Linked DNA regions of Homo sapiens. The protein of the gene in region 1 purifies or fractionates together with the protein of each later gene. This does not show direct contact. Each region holds a gene or a part of one and is shown on either strand. Other genes may lie near its edges.

What was found.
Region 2: the proteins of TNS3 (region 1) and DMD purify together in Homo sapiens (affinity purification with mass spectrometry; one large-scale study listed by BioGRID and IntAct). This does not show direct contact.
Region 3: the proteins of TNS3 (region 1) and AMBRA1 purify together in Homo sapiens (affinity purification with mass spectrometry, with the first as the bait; one large-scale study listed by BioGRID). This does not show direct contact.
Region 4: the proteins of TNS3 (region 1) and PGM3 purify together in Homo sapiens (affinity purification with mass spectrometry, with the first as the bait; one large-scale study listed by BioGRID). This does not show direct contact.

Annotation. Positions count from the first base shown.
Region 1 is NC_000007.14:47,298,279-47,303,583, reverse strand, and holds part of TNS3 (tensin-3), read left to right. Parts: coding exon 1-634; intron 635-1,311; coding exon 1,312-1,398; intron 1,399-5,305. UniProt on the Homo sapiens protein: May act as a protein phosphatase and/or a lipid phosphatase. Involved in the dissociation of the integrin-tensin-actin complex. EGF activates TNS4 and down-regulates TNS3 which results in capping the tail of ITGB1.
Region 2 is NC_000023.11:32,360,648-32,365,049, reverse strand, and holds part of DMD (dystrophin), read left to right. Parts: coding exon 1-30; intron 31-339; coding exon 340-468; intron 469-2,091; coding exon 2,092-2,262; intron 2,263-4,402. UniProt on the Homo sapiens protein: Anchors the extracellular matrix to the cytoskeleton via F-actin. Ligand for dystroglycan.
Region 3 is NC_000011.10:46,544,622-46,549,023, forward strand, and holds part of AMBRA1 (activating molecule in BECN1-regulated autophagy protein 1), read right to left. Parts: intron 3,880-4,402; 5' UTR 3,760-3,879; coding exon 3,625-3,759; intron 3,255-3,624; coding exon 3,196-3,254; intron 2,676-3,195; coding exon 2,492-2,675; intron 1,156-2,491; coding exon 983-1,155; intron 1-982. UniProt on the Homo sapiens protein: Substrate-recognition component of a DCX (DDB1-CUL4-X-box) E3 ubiquitin-protein ligase complex involved in cell cycle control and autophagy.
Region 4 is NC_000006.12:83,175,364-83,179,765, forward strand, and holds part of PGM3 (phosphoacetylglucosamine mutase), read right to left. Parts: intron 3,394-4,402; coding exon 3,310-3,393; intron 698-3,309; coding exon 599-697; intron 1-598. UniProt on the Homo sapiens protein: Catalyzes the conversion of GlcNAc-6-P into GlcNAc-1-P during the synthesis of uridine diphosphate/UDP-GlcNAc, a sugar nucleotide critical to multiple glycosylation pathways including protein N- and O-glycosylation.

The sequences.
Region 1 (5,305 bases):
TCCTCTTCTGCAGAACGCCAGTGGGTGGAGAGCAGCCCCAAGCCCATGGTTTCCCTGCTGGGGAGCGGCCGGCCCACCGGAAGTCCCCTCAGCGCTGAGTTCTCCGGTACCAGGAAGGACTCCCCAGTGCTGTCCTGCTTCCCGCCGTCAGAGCTCCAGGCTCCTTTCCACAGCCATGAGCTGTCCCTAGCAGAGCCACCGGACTCCCTGGCGCCTCCCAGCAGCCAGGCCTTCCTGGGCTTCGGCACCGCCCCAGTGGGAAGTGGCCTTCCGCCCGAGGAGGACCTGGGGGCCTTGCTGGCCAATTCTCATGGAGCGTCACCGACCCCCAGCATCCCGCTGACAGCGACAGGGGCTGCCGACAATGGCTTCCTGTCCCACAACTTTCTCACGGTGGCGCCTGGACACAGCAGCCACCACAGTCCAGGCCTGCAGGGCCAGGGTGTGACCCTGCCCGGGCAGCCACCCCTCCCTGAGAAGAAGCGGGCCTCGGAGGGGGATCGTTCTTTGGGCTCAGTCTCTCCCTCCTCCAGTGGCTTCTCCAGCCCGCACAGCGGGAGCACCATCAGTATCCCCTTCCCAAATGTCCTTCCCGACTTTTCCAAGGCTTCAGAAGCGGCCTCACCTCTGCCAGGTAGGTGTGTTTCCAGCTGGTTGGAAGGGCCCCTCTGTCCATTCACTGGGGAAGGGAAGGGTTCAGACCTGCAGCTGAGCTGGCATATCTCTAGTGCTGGGCTGGGCACCTGGAGAGGAAATCCAGAGCCGTTGGGGTACTTTTCCATTTTCCTCGTCCAAAACCAAGCACTGGCTCAGGCTTTTCATTCACTCTTCTTGGCTTCTGTGTTTGGCCACCTTGGATTCCTTCCAGTTGTAGAAAGTGCAGACATTTGCAGTGGTTCTACTTTCCATGTCACTTGGGAACATGGCTTTTTGTAAATAACAAATTCCTTGTCAAATTAAATTAATTCATCCAAAACGTCATTATGAAATATTTCAAGTGTATAAGAAGCAGTGTGGTCTATGGGTTGAACAACACCAACCTTACCCTCTCTTTCCTCACTACCTTCCTATGTATTCTTAAAATGTATTGCAAAGGCTCAATCCAAGCATCCTGTTGTTCTGTTTTGTGTTATAAAACAGTCACTGCCTCCTCCAACTCAGTCATTTCAAAGGCAGGGTTCCCTTTCCTTAGAACATCGCTCGCTTGCTTGCCCTTGGCATGGGATTTGGACTTCTGGGATCACAGCAGATGAGAGGTTGCAAGAAGAAAAGTGCCCATCATGGTCACTGTTTTTAAATTTTGCTTTACAGATAGTCCAGGTGATAAACTTGTGATCGTGAAATTTGTTCAAGACACTTCCAAGTTCTGGTACAAGGCGGATATTTCAAGAGAACAAGGTATGTGGGGAGGATGAGGGCCTCCTTGGGCATCTGCCCTAGTGCCCGCTTCGCTGCCTTGTGTGAAGATGGGCCCTGCGGTGGGAACATCGGGCAGCCGTGGCCTTCATATGGATTGAGTTTGAGCAGGGCCCACACGTTATTCCATGCCTCCTGGGGACATGCTACAACCTTTAAGTTTTTATAGGGGAAAACTCACTACTAATGAGGGAGTTGGTGAGGAATGGGCCCCAGCCATGAGCATTCCAGTGTGTAGGGTGTAATTTCTGGCTGCTTGCACCAGCCACTGGCTTGCCAGTGATGCCAGCCCACAACTGCTGACTGTGAGGAGGAGACACACTCTCCTGCATCTCCATGAAACCAGAGAGGACAGGGTGAGGAAGCAGGAGAGACACCCTCCTCTGAGAAGTCAGGGACACTGTGTGTTTGTGAACACCTACATAAGCACTTAATAATGAGACCCGGTTGTGGACTTAGCCGCATGCCTCACACACAAACCAGACAGAGCATCTCTCTGCTTGGTACAATGTCAGGCTTTTTTTTTTTTTTTTTCTAATTTGAAATCATTAATACTAATTTTTGAGCAATGAATATTTGAATATTTTGAGCATCACTTTTTACCAGAGCATGAATAGAAGAGATGTGGGAGAGGAAGGCTAGCAAGCTCTTCTGGGCAGCCCTGCTTGGAGACAGCCCCTGGGCAATGAGGAGAATTCATAAGGTGCTTCCCTCGGCTGTGGGATGGCTTTTCTCCCTGGATGCTGTGTCTCAGCTGAGCGTACCTTCCTCTGGATACCTCATTTTGGCAGTGCATAGAGTTTGTTGCTTCTGGGATATACCTCAGAAGAGATGGTGTGTGACTGGCAAGGCAGGGCAGGGCCATGCCTCCAGTGCCTGGAAGACGGAGTCAGGATTCCTAGGAACCAAAGTGAATCCCGGTGGCCACCTGGTGGAGGCTGGAGTGAAAGAGGGAATGGGTTGGTTTAAAGCGGTGAGAAATGACAAGCTGCCCGCAGTCAGCAGGAGACCCACTTGGCTCCTCTGTGCCTCTTTACCTCAACTTCAGAAGAAAATCAAGCTCTCTCCTTATGAAGATGCCTCAGGAATGCCTAGAAATGAATAGTTGAGTGGCAGAAAAATAGCTCTGTCCAGCTCTCCACTGAAATTCTGCTATTCAGTTATGTAGATGACAGAAATGGTAAGAATGTGCATCTCTTATGATCTCAAAGAAGCGATTGTCATTTTAAGTGGAAGAGAGAGAAAAAAAAGCCTGTGGCCTGGAAAGACCTTCATTTCCCTGAATTGGCCTTTGTGAAACACTGCTCACCATGGCTGAGGGCCTCTCTGCGGCCGGATGCTGTGTGCCTGTTGCCACCACCCTGGCCCTGCTTGTGTCTCAAGAATCCCGATGACTGTGGCCCCCAGTGCCTCGGCACCTCCTCCAGCTGGCCAAACTGAGAGGTGCCTATCCAGCACCTAAGAGATTCTGCACAGACCCTTCCACTCTATTGGTGCCGTCTTCTAGGGCAGGGCGATGTGTGGGGCTGGATGCCCCCTTCTCTCATTGTGCAATGTCATTGTAGCAGGGGGGATCTGAAACAGACAGATTTGGGTTGGAGTGCACTGCTGGCTTCCTCGGCAGGGTAGCAAGGTTCGAGCCTGCCGCGGGGGTTTGCTGAGAGCAGTGCCATGTGGAAGGTACCTGCCCTTGCTGGCGCCTGGTAGATGCAGGATAAGTGGATGTGGATGTGCAGTATGTGTAGGGGCTGCTGTTGGCATGTGCTTGATCTTCAGCACACATTGTAGAAGGTTTGCTGGGAGGACCCCATCTCAGGATGGCCAACATGTGCATCGAGTGTTGGTTTTTCCAGCTGAGCTCTAAAAGGATAACTTTCATTTTCTACATATTTTACATAGAAGAGACCTGTGCAGACGAACCTTCTACTGCCCGTGTCAGAGTCTCCAAACAGCGGAAGGCTGCCCTTGGGTGTCATTTATTTGGATTTTAACTGTCAGATGTGCCTTTTTCTAGAAAAGCTACAATGACATTTCAGGGTGATGCAGGAGGAAAAAAAACACCCAGATAACCTCTTTGGGAGTGCAATTTGTCACATACTTAATTCCTTGAGGTTTCTTAAAGCTAACATAAAAATACCTCAGGAGGAAAAGAGGACCTTAAAGTAAAATCAAAATTAAGTACTACTGTCCCAGTTGTACTTCTGGGGTGTTGCTTCTCCAGATGCTTCTCCAGATGCAGGGCGCGACAGTGTGAGAAGGTGCGAGGAGACTCACTTGCCTCCCCTCCCCTCATCCCTGTCTCCAGGTGAGGAATGCGATGCCAGTGCCAGGGTGGAGCACGCAGCTGCTGTGTGCAGTGTGTGGACGCTCGTTTTTCCAACTTCAGCACACCAGGCTCCTCAGCCTACTTCTGTTTGGAAAAACAGCGGGTCTAAAATTCTCCTCTTACTCCCATTGCCTGTGCAGGAGAGCACAGCCCCCTTGCACCCCTGCAGCCTGGCAGCTGGGGCTTCCCTCCTGGCATGGGGAGAACTGGTCGGAGCAAAGCCCGTGTTCCCTCCACTGCCATCCACAGGTGCCCAAAGTCTCAGTCCCGTGAGGCTTCTACACTTTATTTACCACAGAGAAGTAGAACCATGACTTACAAAAAGAAAAGCTCTGAGGTATATCACAGTTGAAACAAAATGTAAGTGATCTTTTGTCCTACTTAGAGAAAACAAAAAAGTAGGCCCGGCGCAGTGACTCACTCCTATAATCCCAGCAACTTAGGGAAGCTGAGGTGGGAGGATCACTTGAGCCCAGGAGTTTAAGGCCAGCCTGGGCAACATAGTGAGACCCAGTGTCTACCAAAAATTTTTAAAAATTAGCTGGGTGTGGTGGTGTACACTTGTAGTCCCAGCTACTCAGGAAGCTGAGGTGGGAGGATCACTTGGGCCCAGCAGGTTGAGGCTGCAGTGAGCTATGATTGTGTCACTGTACTTCAGTCTGGGCAACAGAGTGAGAGAGCCTATCTCAAAAAAATAAAAATTAAAAACTGAAAAAATGTCATTCACGTTCAGCCCCCAAGTTTATAGACTACGCTGTGAGAAAACGTGCACCAGAATTCAGGGTTTATTCCCAGGGCCTGTGCCCTGCCCCAGGAGGCCCCCCACCCAGCCCTGGGTCCCTTGCATGGGCGGCTGCAGGCCTGGCTGGAGCTACCAGCAGTCTCGGGCATGCACGGTGAGCCTGCCTGTGTTTTCCTGCCCATCCTTCCCACTGCGTGCTGTTTAGAAGCTCCTGCTTCATCCCCAGGGGCATGTTGAGCTCCTCCCCGTGCCCTCATCCTGTGCACAGGGCCACGGTGCAGACATTGAAAAATGTGTAAAAGAAACCATTCGTTTCATCCTATGGCCAGACAGATGCCTTGGCTGTGGGTCCGGTCAGGCCTGGGGGCATGTGAGGGGCCTCTGTGGGAGTGCGCCGTGGAGGTATTTACTGAGGCATGCCGGGGGCATCCCAGCACTTACTGGTTCATGTTCTGCGCCCTGATCGCTTCCAGGCAGAGCCTTTGGCATTCCAGAAAGGCAGCATTTCCATGGCTGTAATTATGTATAACTTTATACTCTAAATCCCCAGTTTTCCCTTTTTTAAAATAAAGAGTAAATGTCTAGAAAAGAAATTCTGAGATGTAGTCTAGTTATCAGGGAACACTCTGGCTTGTCTGGGCAGTATCGAGTTGAGGTTACTATTACCCTAACCCACTCCCTCTTCTTGGAAATGCCAGATTTTGGCCATGAAGGAGAGAGATTTTTTGAAGCAATGATTATGATTAGTTGAATGCCTACCAGCCTCACCAGGGAAGCTGGGTGACCCACTGTGCGAGGCCCTGGGTTGGCGGGCACATGGG
Region 2 (4,402 bases), on another chromosome or scaffold:
CGAGCAGAAGAGTGGTTAAATCTTTTGTTGGTAAGAGAAAAGGCTAGAAGCTTTTACACCCTTCTCTGTCACGAGAAAAAGATACATAAGTGACCAGTAACAATTCTGTGTTTGAAAATTTCTCAATTCTACGTATATGCTGGCTCTTAATTCAATATCTATAACAATATTTTAATATATTTTTCTTTATATTTACGCAATATTCTATATGAAAATACCACTTAAAACTAATCTCAATGAAACTTTATTGTTGTCTTTTAAACATTTTAGAACATAGGAAAAATTCTTTAAGAATATTGTCTAACCAATAATGCCATGGTATGTCTCTGTACAATTAAGGAATACCAGAAACACATGGAAACTTTTGACCAGAATGTGGACCACATCACAAAGTGGATCATTCAGGCTGACACACTTTTGGATGAATCAGAGAAAAAGAAACCCCAGCAAAAAGAAGACGTGCTTAAGGTAGCAAATAAAATATGAAAAGTAATGTCCAAATTGTACACCAGTTACTTCAATCATCTTTGTCCTAAAAGATACTAAGGACGTCTTAATAAGAGTAAAACAATCCTTTCTTCCTTCCTTTATCTTTCCCTTTTTCCTTCCTTCCCCCTTTGAATGGAAATGAATGATTTTGAAGAGTTCTGTAATCTGACTTTCTGTTCAAATCCATCACTCAGTTAATTATACCCAATGTAAACTCCGTTCAGAAAGATATTCCAAGATTTATTTTGAAATCATATTGCAAATTTCTGCCTTTGTCAATGGTGGTACTACATTCTTGTGTCTAACACAAAGAACAATCTGACACTATCATTCATTTAGCCCATCTGAATGAACACCTGAAATCCAGTCAGCTGATTTTTTTGCCTATGCCATATCCAAATCTTGGTAATTAGTCTTAATGTTGGGCTTATGTAAAGCTGAGGTTTTCATTTTTAACTACATGTAAACTAGGCTTTGGGTTCTTTCTTTTAGTCTCAAAACTGACTGTTAGGATGCCCTGTCTTCTTTTTCAAGGGGAACTTAATCTTTTCTTTAAAAAATGATTCCGATAAAAGGGTATGAGAGGTGTAATACGCAAATATACCTTATAGACACTACATTGTTTCTATTTGATGATGTCTCTTTTCCCAATTAAATAGGTAGAGTTGAATTTTAACAGCTCTCTTTTCAATAAACATTTTTTATTTTGTTTTGCTGCAATGTTTGATAAATTTATTGATTAGTTGTTTACTATTTAAAGAAAACTCAAAAATTATGTTTCTTTCTATGCAATTTATTTTTATGCCTCTGATATTTTCCACAGATTACGATATACCTTTAATGAAAAACTATAAATTCATTCCAGGCTATCCCCAAAACACATTTATGCCATTGTCTGAAGCTTATTTTGATGTGGATCTGTATTGTGCTCTTCATTATCCCTTGATGTATAGTCAGAGATGTCATCTTATGGTGAATTTCCTTCAAGGCTTTTTGAATAATAGGGTCTGAGTTATTTAACTTCAACCTCTGTGACCCGGCAGGTCAGGAAGAACATTCCTCAGTACCTCTGTATGTGACAGAAAATTCGTATGTGTTAGAAAATCACTTTTTTTCTTATGACACTCAATGTAATAAAGAGGAACTTGAAAGTGCTAGGAAGGAATAGAAAAGTGTTCTTCAGCTACCTGACCTCCTGAGCACATACTTAGTTCATTCCACAACTATTAAATTCAGTAACGATATAATAAAATAAGACTAAATAGAATATATTATGATAGTTGCAACAACATAGTTGGGAAAACATCCCTGTCCTTCCTCGGACTAAATAAACATTTTAAATAGACATGCATCAAACTTAAGGACGGTGATCTATTTTTCTGAAATCACACGCATTTTCATTTTAGTCCTGTTTTATGGAAGTTGTGGTTTTATCTCCCTTTGTATTTTCTGCATGTGCTTGCTCTCATTTTCTTACTTTCTCTCTCTCTCTTTCTCACTCTTCTCGCTCACTTGCTCACTCGCTCTGTTTGGCTCTCTTTTTCTATCTTGACCTTCATTAATTACTAACTTCAAGTCCTATCTCTTGCTCATGGAATATAGCGTTTAAAGGCAGAACTGAATGACATACGCCCAAAGGTGGACTCTACACGTGACCAAGCAGCAAACTTGATGGCAAACCGCGGTGACCACTGCAGGAAATTAGTAGAGCCCCAAATCTCAGAGCTCAACCATCGATTTGCAGCCATTTCACACAGAATTAAGACTGGAAAGGTAGGAAGATCTACTCCAAGGTGGAAACTTGTGCTAAATGGTCTCTTGCGAAGGTTGCGCAGTACTCTGAAAGGGGCAAGTAGACCCCACAGCAAGGTTTTCAAAAGGAAAATGAATGCCAAAATGTATTTAAGGAAATTTTACCACTGATTATAATGGGAGATAAACGCCACTCCTCCCCGTCTCTGTCTCTCTCTGTCTCTCTCTGTCTCTTTTTCTCTCTCATCTTTTGCTGCCATAGATATTCTAGGACTGCATTCTATGCTGCAGTTTACATACGTACTTTCAGGGGTCACCTACAGAAAAAAATAACAAATAGCATGCTGAAGGCCAAAAAAATAAATAAAACCAAAAGCACACAAGTCATCCATCAACATAAAGCACTACCGATAAATTTTGCCAAAAGCAGTACTGATACAATATTGCTTGTATGTAATGTGGATCAAATATCCAAAATGAGGTCTTGTACATCTTCTGCACGGTCTAGGGTGTTTTTTTACCTCTTTACTGGTTGTGCAAGTGTGTTTGTTTAACTTGCTTTTGCTAGTTGTAGACACTGTGACAAAATTCATTAGGCTATAATGAAATGATCACGCCATGAAAACAAATCATTGCAAAGCTTACATATCCTAATTTTTGTAATTTTATATGCCTATTTATATTACTGTTTAAGAAGAACCAGGGAATATGGAACTTTTGCGTGATAGACTTTATATTTGTGTATGATTTGATGAAGAGAAAGTCTTATTTAATAAGTAGTTTGCAAAAATGTATAAATATAGTGTTATAGAATTTCAGCTCTTTGGGAAGATTTGAAATGCAAGTAATTACCTAGAAATTTATATACTGTAGTTTGATAAATTTCAATATATATGATATGCTTTCAAACATAAAAATGTATATAAAATCAATATATGTATTTAGGTATATAGATAATTGTTAGAAATAATCTGAAATGAAAAAAACATTGGAGTATTTATGAGAAAATATGATGCAGTATGTCAGGTAAGTATTGATTCCTGGAAAAATAGAACATTTTCAAAAAATATTTTGATAGATATAAGCAACCAGTAATAGCATGGTTTCACAATTGCTGCACTTTCTAAGGCATTACAGTGTCTCATCATGTTATATAATAGTACATATTTAAAGTAGTTTTCAAAATAAGTGAAATGTGACATGATAAATTCTAAATAGTTTAGCTTGTATGCATGAGACACAGTTACCCTTCAAAATTCACCTTCCCAAATTAAAAAGTTGTTAGTTTACCTTAATTCATTGCAAGTTATTTTTAATAGTTAACTACTTAGTTCTCTTGTACTCTCTCTCTCCATACATAGAGACCTTATATAGTTGACTTTTAAAAGGCTATATTCTCTACATATGGAGAGAGACAGCATGAGAGAACTTAGTAGTTAACTGTCACAAATATATATATTTGAGTCAGTCATTATTACCTGCAAAAAAATGTGACAGGCTCTTAAAATTGATTAAAGTTTTGAAAGAATGTATTGTTACTTACAAAGACAATTGTTTTTACTTCTAAAGATATCAATGGCTTATGTAATAACAAGACAATGAATGGAGATTTATTTCAATCCTTAAAAAATGCTACTACTTCATTACTAAGATATAGACACACACACATGCACATTTTAATAAATCACTAAGCTATAGAATATTTAAGAGAAAATAAGGTATTATCTTTGGATAAATTGTGTTACAAGATTGTGGTTCACAGATATTAAAAAATGGGTAGAATTTGCTCTCCACCACAGATGTGACAGACCCAGCCAATACAAGTTTGTGACCAAGACAAGTTTGTGAGTTTTCATTTCACATTCTGCATGAATTTGTAAGTATACTTCTGGAAATCATGCATAAAGTGATCCACTCTATGAACTTCTTTTATTTTCCCTAGAAACATAAGGCATAAGAAATTTCCAGTGAATATTCATTTATTATTATTATTATTATTATTATTATTTTGTGTGTGTGTGTGTGGTGGAGACTCTCTCTGTTGCCCAGGCTGGAGTGCTGTGGCATAACCTCAGCTCACTGCAACCTCTGCCTCCTGGAATCAAGTGATTCTCCTGCCTCAGCCTCCCAAGTAGCTGGGATTACGGGCGGGCGCCGTGAC
Region 3 (4,402 bases), on another chromosome or scaffold:
ACAGACAACCCACCAAGGTATCTAAAATACCACCCAAACTTCTTTCAGGTTTTCCCAAAGAAGTACTATCCAAAACAGTTAGCTTTGAAACTAAAAGAGAGTCTAATGACCCTGATCTCCAAAAACCAGAAGATGAGGCCAATAAGGGAAAGCTGAAATGAACAAAATGAATGTCTCCCAGCTGATTAGTCAGCTGCTTAGAAAGCAGGAGGCGGCCAGGTGCAGTGGCTCATACCTATAATCCCAATACTTTGGGAGGCTAAAGCAGGAGGATCACTGAAGGCCAGTAGTTCGAGACTAGCCTGGGTAACACAGTGAGGCCCCGCCCCCCAAATCTCTACGAAAAAATTTAAAAATTAGCTGAGAGAGGCTGCACACACCTGTAGTCCCAGATACTCATAAGACTGAGGTGGGAGGATTGCTTGGGCCCATGAGGTCAAGGCTGCAGTAACTTGGGCCCATGAGGTCATGACTGCACAACTGTACTCCAGCCTGGGTAACAGAGCAAGACCCTGTCTCCTTAAAAAAAAAAAAAAAGCCGGGGGGGGGGGGGTGGTGGTGGGCATGGTGGCTCATGCCTGTAATCACAGCACTTTGGGAGGCTGAGGTGGGCGGATCACTTAAGGCCAGGAGTTCAAGACCATCCTGGACAACATGGTGAAACCCTATCTTTATTAAAAATACAAAAAAATGAGCCGGGCATGGTGGTGGGTGCCTGCAATCCCAGCTACTCTGGAGGCTGAGGCACGAGAATCGCTTGAACCTAGGAGGCAGAGGTCGCAGTGAGACAAGACTGCGCCACTGCACTCCACCCTGGGTGACAGAGTGACACCCTGTCTCAAAAAAAAAATAGGAGGAGCTATGAGGATGACAACTTGCCCTGAGCAGGGATAACAACCTGACTTCCAAGGTGACAGCCAGTAGAATGTTCTCTATCACGTCAGTCCTGTGCCAGACAATGCAGATGGGGCAGCGCACTCACCGGACCCGTTCCATCTCACTAGCTGTCTTCACCACAGCAAAGGGTTCCCGTCGACTCCAGTCCCAGAAGTGGATCTCATTGGCAGTGGCAATCAGCAGGAGCTGAGCCGTAGGGTGGAAAGCCAGGGAGGCAATGGCATTGTTGCTATCTGTGAACCAGCTTTCACTGCCACCCTGTGAATGAACCAATTCCAGATATTCTCAGGTTACAAGCTACCAGCACACTGGGAAGTCAATTTCAAGAAAGGTCCATTTAAGGTAAAATGACTATGTCTAGGGACTACTTTAAATACATCCTCTGTAAAAAGATGTAGAAGATCAGCGATCTGGTAGTGCCACTAATTTATCAGATAAATACTATACAATCAGTTCAGTTCTTCAAATTAGTCACAATCTACAAGCATTAAGCATATATACACAGTTCCTATTTCTTTTTTTTTTTTTTTTTTTTGACAGGGGGTTTCATTCTGTCACCCAGGCTGGAGTGCAGTGGCACAATCTCAGCACACTGCAACCTCTGCCTCCTAGGCTCAAGCAATCCTCGCACCTCAGCCTCCCAAGTAGCTGGGACCACAGGCGCATGGCACCATGCTCAGCTAATTTTATATAATTTTGTGTATAATATTTTTGGTATAATATCCTGCCCAGGCTGGTCTCAAACTCCTGAACTCAAGCAATCCTCCTGTCTTGGTCTCCTGAAGTGCTAGGAATACAGGCGTGAGCCACCGCGCCCAGCCCACAGTTCCATGCAAAGCCTGAGAAAAACTCAAGCTCGGTGCACAACATGGTGCAAGACAACCCGCTAGCCAGTTACTAGGACAAAGAGGATCTTGCTTTGATGATCATGATCGGAGTACAGGAATATCTGTACTTAGGCAAAGATGCCCTAAGACAACAGAAATCCAACCTGAACATATCTTAGAGCCTCCTGTACTATGTCACAACGGGCTGAAGGAAGCAAAAGTAGATGTTCATCTTAGCAAGAATGGAAGACAATCTCAGGGCATGCTTAAGCTATTGCAAAAAAAAAAAAAAGGAATGGAAGACAGGGAATTAGACTTCCTATTAATTAAGTGGGCAATGTCTACAACAATATATTCAGATGTAGTCCTAAGAATCTGGCTAGGCTCTTCCAGAATTAAAAAACCAATGGTAAACAAGTCTCTGCATTTAGAATACCAAAAGAAGCCGGGCATGGTGGCTCATGCCTGTAATCCCAGCACTTTGGGAGGCCGAGGCAGGCAGACCACTTGAGGTCAGGAGTTCAAGATCAGCCTGGCCAACATAGTGAATCCCCGTCTCTACTAAAAACACAAAAATGAGCCAGGCATGATGGCACATGCCTGTAATCCCAGCTACTTGGGAGGCTGAAGCAGAAGTATCACTTGAACCTGGGAGACGGAGGTTGCAGCGAGCCAAGATCACACCACTGGGCAACAGAGCGAGACTCCGTCTCAAAAAAAAAAAATTAGAACACCAAAAGAAAAGGGTATCTTAAGGAAATACTCACGTGTAAATCCCAAATCCTAACCTCCCCATCTAGGCAGCCAGAAGCAATAAGGCCTGAGATGGTGGGATGAAAAGTGACACACCATGGAGTACGGCGGTGTCCAATCAGGGAATGAACACACTTGCCAGTCTTCACCTCCGTAATATAGATATTATGGTTCACATGGGTGGAGGCTAAGAGAGTCCTAGAAAATCAAAGAGTAGAACTGAATTCAGAAGCATGTGGAAGGGTAACCAATCTTATCAACTTTGGACGACATAGAATATTGATGCTACCTGCCAATCCCAACATGAAAGAAACTAAGCTTTGTATGTTAGGCAGTATATCTACAAACAGAAATATTCTGATCTTTAAAAGCTTTTGGCTTGTCCACACTGTCCCCAAATGACACATGCCACATTCGGAAAATATTTTTTCCCACTGGAAAAACCATCATACCACTGGTGAGCTGTATCACACAGGCAAATGATTGTTATTGAGAAACTTTCCAAGTTTTGATCCTCTCAGTTTCCTTTGCTTGTTCTCATGATTTTTCAGGTTAGCACTGCTCATCTACTTTCTTTCCCTTTCCGACACGGGGCCAAAGTGCTGTTCATACAGTACTTCAGAGAGACTTTAGGGACTGACTTGGAAGATCAAGCCAGGCCAAATATACAGAAAGCACTGTTATCACAAATCTTAAGTTATAGATAAATACTGAGTACCTGTCTGGGCTGAAGGCCAATAAGAAGGTAGAGCGTGGACTATCCGGCAGTTCTACTCTCTGGGAGACAAAAAAAAAAAAAAAGTTAAAATACATGATTTGTAGACCATGGTTCACCGTATCTCAAAAGCACATTAACCATTCTAGATTAGCATTCACAGTGTAGGCTTAAAAACTGGAGACAATGATCAAGCTACAAATTGAGAGAGATAAACCTAAATTACCTTCAGGAAAACTGTCTAGCTCTAAAGGAAAAAGATATTTCTAGCACATTAGTTCTTTCAAATTTACAAACAACTCCCTAAGTCAGATATGTCAACTCTCCCACACAAGATAAATATATCCCAACTCTCTGCTGTTAACCCATTCTAAGGTCTCATTCTACCATCACCAGCACAAATCCTATGTGAAATATAGCCATTTTCCTTACCTTGCCCTCCCATTTCATCCACCGGGTTTTATCTTCTACCAGCTCCTGCAGAAGCCGCTGAGCTCCCATGGCCCGAGCACCCCGTTCTCGCCCCCAGAGTATCCGGACAGCATTCTTTTCTGGGACAACCTTCATGGCGCTCAGTAGCCACTGTCACACCAGGCCCAGGAAATGAAGGAGCAAGTAACAGCTCCAACACACTGAAGCAGCTAAAATGAGGCCATACAGGTCCTTGTAAGTTGTCCTCATGGAAATCTTAAGGAACAAAGAATAATGTCAAAGAACGACTTCTGCAACGAGAAGCTTCTAATTGCAAATACAATTCTAGCTCAAAAGGGAAATTATACTTTTCCTATTTAATGACACTTTCTCAGAAAAGACCCTTCCTCCCAGAATTTTTCTTCCAAAAATATTTCATACTCTCATATTCTCCATAGCTCAACCTTGTAGCTAAAGAAAGGATCAGGCCAAGCACAGTGGCTCACGCCTGTAATCCCCGAACTTTGGGAAGCCAAGGAGATTGGATTGCTTGAGGTCAGGAGTTTGAGACAGCCTGGCCAACATGGTGAAACCCCGTCTCTACTAAAATACAAAAATTAGCCGGGTGTGGTGGCAGGCACCTGTAATCCCAGCTACTCATCAGACTGAAGCAGGAGAATTGCTTGAACCCAGGACGCAGAAGTTGCAGAGAGCTGAGATAGTGCCATTGCACTCCAGTGCCTGGGCGACAGAGCAAGACTCCATCTCAAAAAAAAAAAGATTATTTAGGAGTACCTTT
Region 4 (4,402 bases), on another chromosome or scaffold:
AAAAGCCAATTTTAAATTAATGAGGAAAATTATTTGGCTTTGATTCAAATGTTCTGATAGCCACCTCAAGTGTATTCATTAAATGAGGTGAGTATAAAAACATTTTAAAAATATTCTGAACATTATGAATCTACAAAAAACTAAATTATACACTTTAAAATGTAATTTTATGTAAAATGTAAATTGAAACATTTTATGCCTATCACTAGTTACCTTAAATTCATTTTCATTTCTTATTAATTATCAACTTTCCAACACTTTGCAATTCACCATAGCGACTGAATTTTTCTTTTCCTCTCCTATGGCCAGCCGGAAAATGCATAGACAACATACTTATAAAAAAATTAAGAACTGTAAATTTTAAAAAACTATTCAAAACACCTTAGTATATCTCTTCACATTCAAAGAAGAATCATTACCATGTAAAAGAGAATCACAGTTTCATAATACATCAATATATAAGATAACCAAAGGATCTTTTTGTCACATCCAATTATTTCAACAAAGTACAATATTACCTATTATTACCTCCCAGATATAGAAGTCTCATCATAAAGAAAAGTGCCAGCTAAGGCCAACTATAATTAAGAGAACTTACAGTGCCATGCCCATTTGCTTCAAAATAAACTCCAATGTCAAACTCTTGAGCCTTGTGGTGCAAATGTTTTACACCAGTCTTAGTGCAATAGACAGGTACCTATAACACATGCATTTAAAGAAATACAGCAATTACTCAGATGTCAAATGTTTCTTGCATACCTAGTATCCCAGAGATACAAAGGGGAACAAAATACTGGGGCCGAGTCCAGTGAGGAAGACGATTAAGCATTAAAATACAAAATGGTACGTATACAATGGAAGCATGAACACACTCTGGAAGCACGCAGCCAAGGGTAAAGCACGGTGAGAGAGATGAGGGTCTCCTTATAAGACACGAAAGATTACAAGTGGGGGCGTGACATGACCTAACTGTTTTAGAAAGCTGTTTAGCTACAGTGTGGAGAATAGCTTAGAGCAGAATTGCAAGCTTTTTCTGTAACAGGCCAGACAGTAAATATTTTAGGCTTTGCAGGCCATATGGTCTCTGTCACAATTACTCTGCCATTACAGTGCAAAAGCAGCCACAGACCATACATAAACAAATCAACATAGCTCTATTCCAATAAAACTTTGTTTGCAAATAGCAGCAAGTTCAATTAGAAGGTTAAGAAATGGAATGAGGAGGCTTCTAGGACTAATCCCAGTAAGAAATAGTGGCTGGATCAGCAATAGTGAATAGGGAAAGTCATGGATGGATGGATCTGAGAGAGCTTTAAGAATGGTTAAGGAAAGATTGATAGTAGAAAAACTGCAAAAGAAAGATCAGCATTAGATTGGATGTAGGAGACCTCAGGAATGGCAAGGGCTAAAAATATTTCATCTGGAAGACAGTGAGTTGAGAAGTAACAGTTTCTTAAACTAGGTTATTTTATCTGTAATAAATTTTTAAGACAGAAAATGAAAATCCTAAAACAATAACCCAAGTACTGTGAAATAACCCAATCCCTGTGAAAGGCAGGCAAATGGGCCCCAGATGGAATCCCTTGAATGAGCTTATTATAACCATATATTAAAATCAGGTCATAAACTAGCAGCCTCAAGATATATTTCGTTTTGCCCAGCCACTGTTTCTTTTTAAACAAATAGGAACATCACATGAAAATTCAGATTTCCTGCTTCTCTTGAAGAGTGTGACTACAGTTGACATCAGCTGGCACATACTGACCTGTTTTTAGCCCCCTGCTGCCCTCATTCACTTTACCTGTCCAAATCCTGCAGGAATCTGACTTTGTAATTCCTGCTTTCTAGAGAATGGAAAGGTAACTAAAACTAGTATAAATGCCAGAACGAGGTACAAAATGAGGTACAAAAAAGTTGGAAAACTTCTCGATAATGAGAAAGTATAGGCAAACAGACTTCCAGTTTTGTCCATGAACCCTGGTAACTCTCCGAGCAAGTAGTGTGGTGCCAAGGGTGGTCACCTGGTGGACACCGGGGAAATAATTAGAAACAGAATCTCCCACCACCCCAGAAAACCTCTCCAAAAAAAAAAGAAGGGTAAGAAACAGTTTTATTACTGAATAAGTATTAAGCCAAACTGATGTTCAATCACAGGCTAATTTGCTAAGAGATAGCAAAGATAAACGCTCACCCTTTAATATAGCCAAGCGGACACATTCCAATACAATTTGCTAAGATAAAAGATGGCTAATGACAAAAATTCTCTCCTTGACCAAACTTTAGTTAGGTTTAGGTGGGCCTGACTAGGCCTTGTCCTTAGGCATGTCTTCCAATAGCCCGATTTTAATAAGAGTCATGCTAAGTGAGCTTAGCGAGAATCCCTCATCCTGATACATGACCACTCTTGACATCTGATCTGAGTTCTCATTCTCTACCATCCCCCAGGTAATATGTGACCGCCCTGGCCTACCTTCAGCAAAAGTCCTGTTAGATCAGTTTAGCCAAAATACCACCCACTTACCCTCATGTTTCCTCTCAGTAATTTTTCATCCACTGACCACCCCCCACACACCCTGCTCCTTGGCTATAAAGCCCTACTTTTCCTTACTATATTTGGAGTTGAGCCCAATCTTTCTCCTACCACTGCAAAACTCCATCACATTAGTCCCTGTACCTATCACAACAGTCCTGAATCAAGTCTGCCTTACCATTTTAACAAGTGTCATGAATTATTTTTTCTTTAACACTAGTCCTCAAATAGGAAAACTTGAAACCACCATTTGTCACACACATAGTTTATCCTAAACTTACTTGGTAATAGGGATGGCCACCTGTGTTAACTGCCCTTCTCTAAAGGAGTAATAAAACTTTTCATACCTCTGTGACAGGTAGATAGTTACAAATTGGACGCAAACACCTAAGTTAAACTCTCCTGAGACTGGGAGATAGGTGAGCTATCTTCCTTGATGTTTATATTTGAAATTGGTGACTCTAGGCCCTTAAAGAAAAGTATTCCTGAGCTATAAAACTGGCTTATTAGGCCTTTAGAAAGACTTACATTCATTACAAAGGCACAGAGAAAGAATTCCAAGTTTTCTAAAGGAAAACTCCAAGAAAAGGAAGGAAAGAAGTTTTCCTTTATTCATCAAGGACAACTAAATTTTTTCTTATTTATTTCTCTTTACCTTTACATGAACAGCAGCTCAGCTTCATGCACTACAACATAATCACTTTTATGAGGGCAGTATCTTTCTCACAGAAACATGATCTTAATTAAGAAACTACCAGAAAACAAAAATGGTTCAATACCTTCATAACTTCTTCAAGATACCGTGTTGAACTTCCATTTGCATATGCAGTTTGTACAACACCAATATTCAAACTTTCTCCAATCTAGACAAAAACAATGATACTTAACTTGCCATCAAAAGTATGGTCTACAAAAACAAATATAATGAGAGTTCTAAAGGCTACCAAAATTATCAGCCAGTTCAGTTGTGCCTTAGTTTATGCCAAAAATGTCTGACTGAAAATTTACATGTATGCCAGGAAAAAAGCCTAAAATACATTTGAACACTATTTAAAACAATTCTATGAGAATTCCTCTTTTAAGAAGCCTGTATCTCCTGATCTTCACCTCTTTAATTTTTTAAATAAAAGTATCTGGCCAGGCACGGTGGCTCACGCCTGTAATCCCAGCACTCTGGGAGGCCAAGGTGGGTGGATCACCTGAGGTCAAAAGTTCGAGACCAGCCTGGCCAACATGGTGAAACCCCATCTCTACTAAAAGTACAAAAATTAGCCAGGTGTGGTGGCATGCATCTGTAATCCCAGCTACTTGGGAGGCTGAGGCAGAAGAATTGCTTGAGCCCAGGGAGGCAGAGGTTGCAATGAGCCGAGATCACGCCCCTGCACTCCAGCCTGGGCAACAGAGCAACACTGTCTCAAAAAAAAAAAAAAAAAAAATCTATTAAATTCTTAAAGTATGCTGTTTCCAGATTATAATAATTTCCAATTACATTGTGTACTTAAAGCTAGCCTGAGATTTATTTCTAAAATAGCAAAATGAAACAAATCTCACATTACTAAGCTTATCATAATCAGTTAATATATCAGATGATGAGATTTCCTATTAGAATTTAGGGCTTTTATGGAGTGACCACAGAACTGTCATCAAAGTTTCAATTATGATGGAAGCAAAACTTCCTAAAGCTTCAAATCACAAAACTCAGCCAGTATAAGGAGGAAAAGAGTACCTTCAGGTTCCAAAGCCAATGCCTCAAATGTTCAAATGACTGGGTATTACCACTGCTCTTTTTTTAATTTTCTGCCCACTAATGTAAAGAATTTGTCATAAATTGTGCCCTTCTGACAAATGATTGTAAAATATGGAACTATTTCA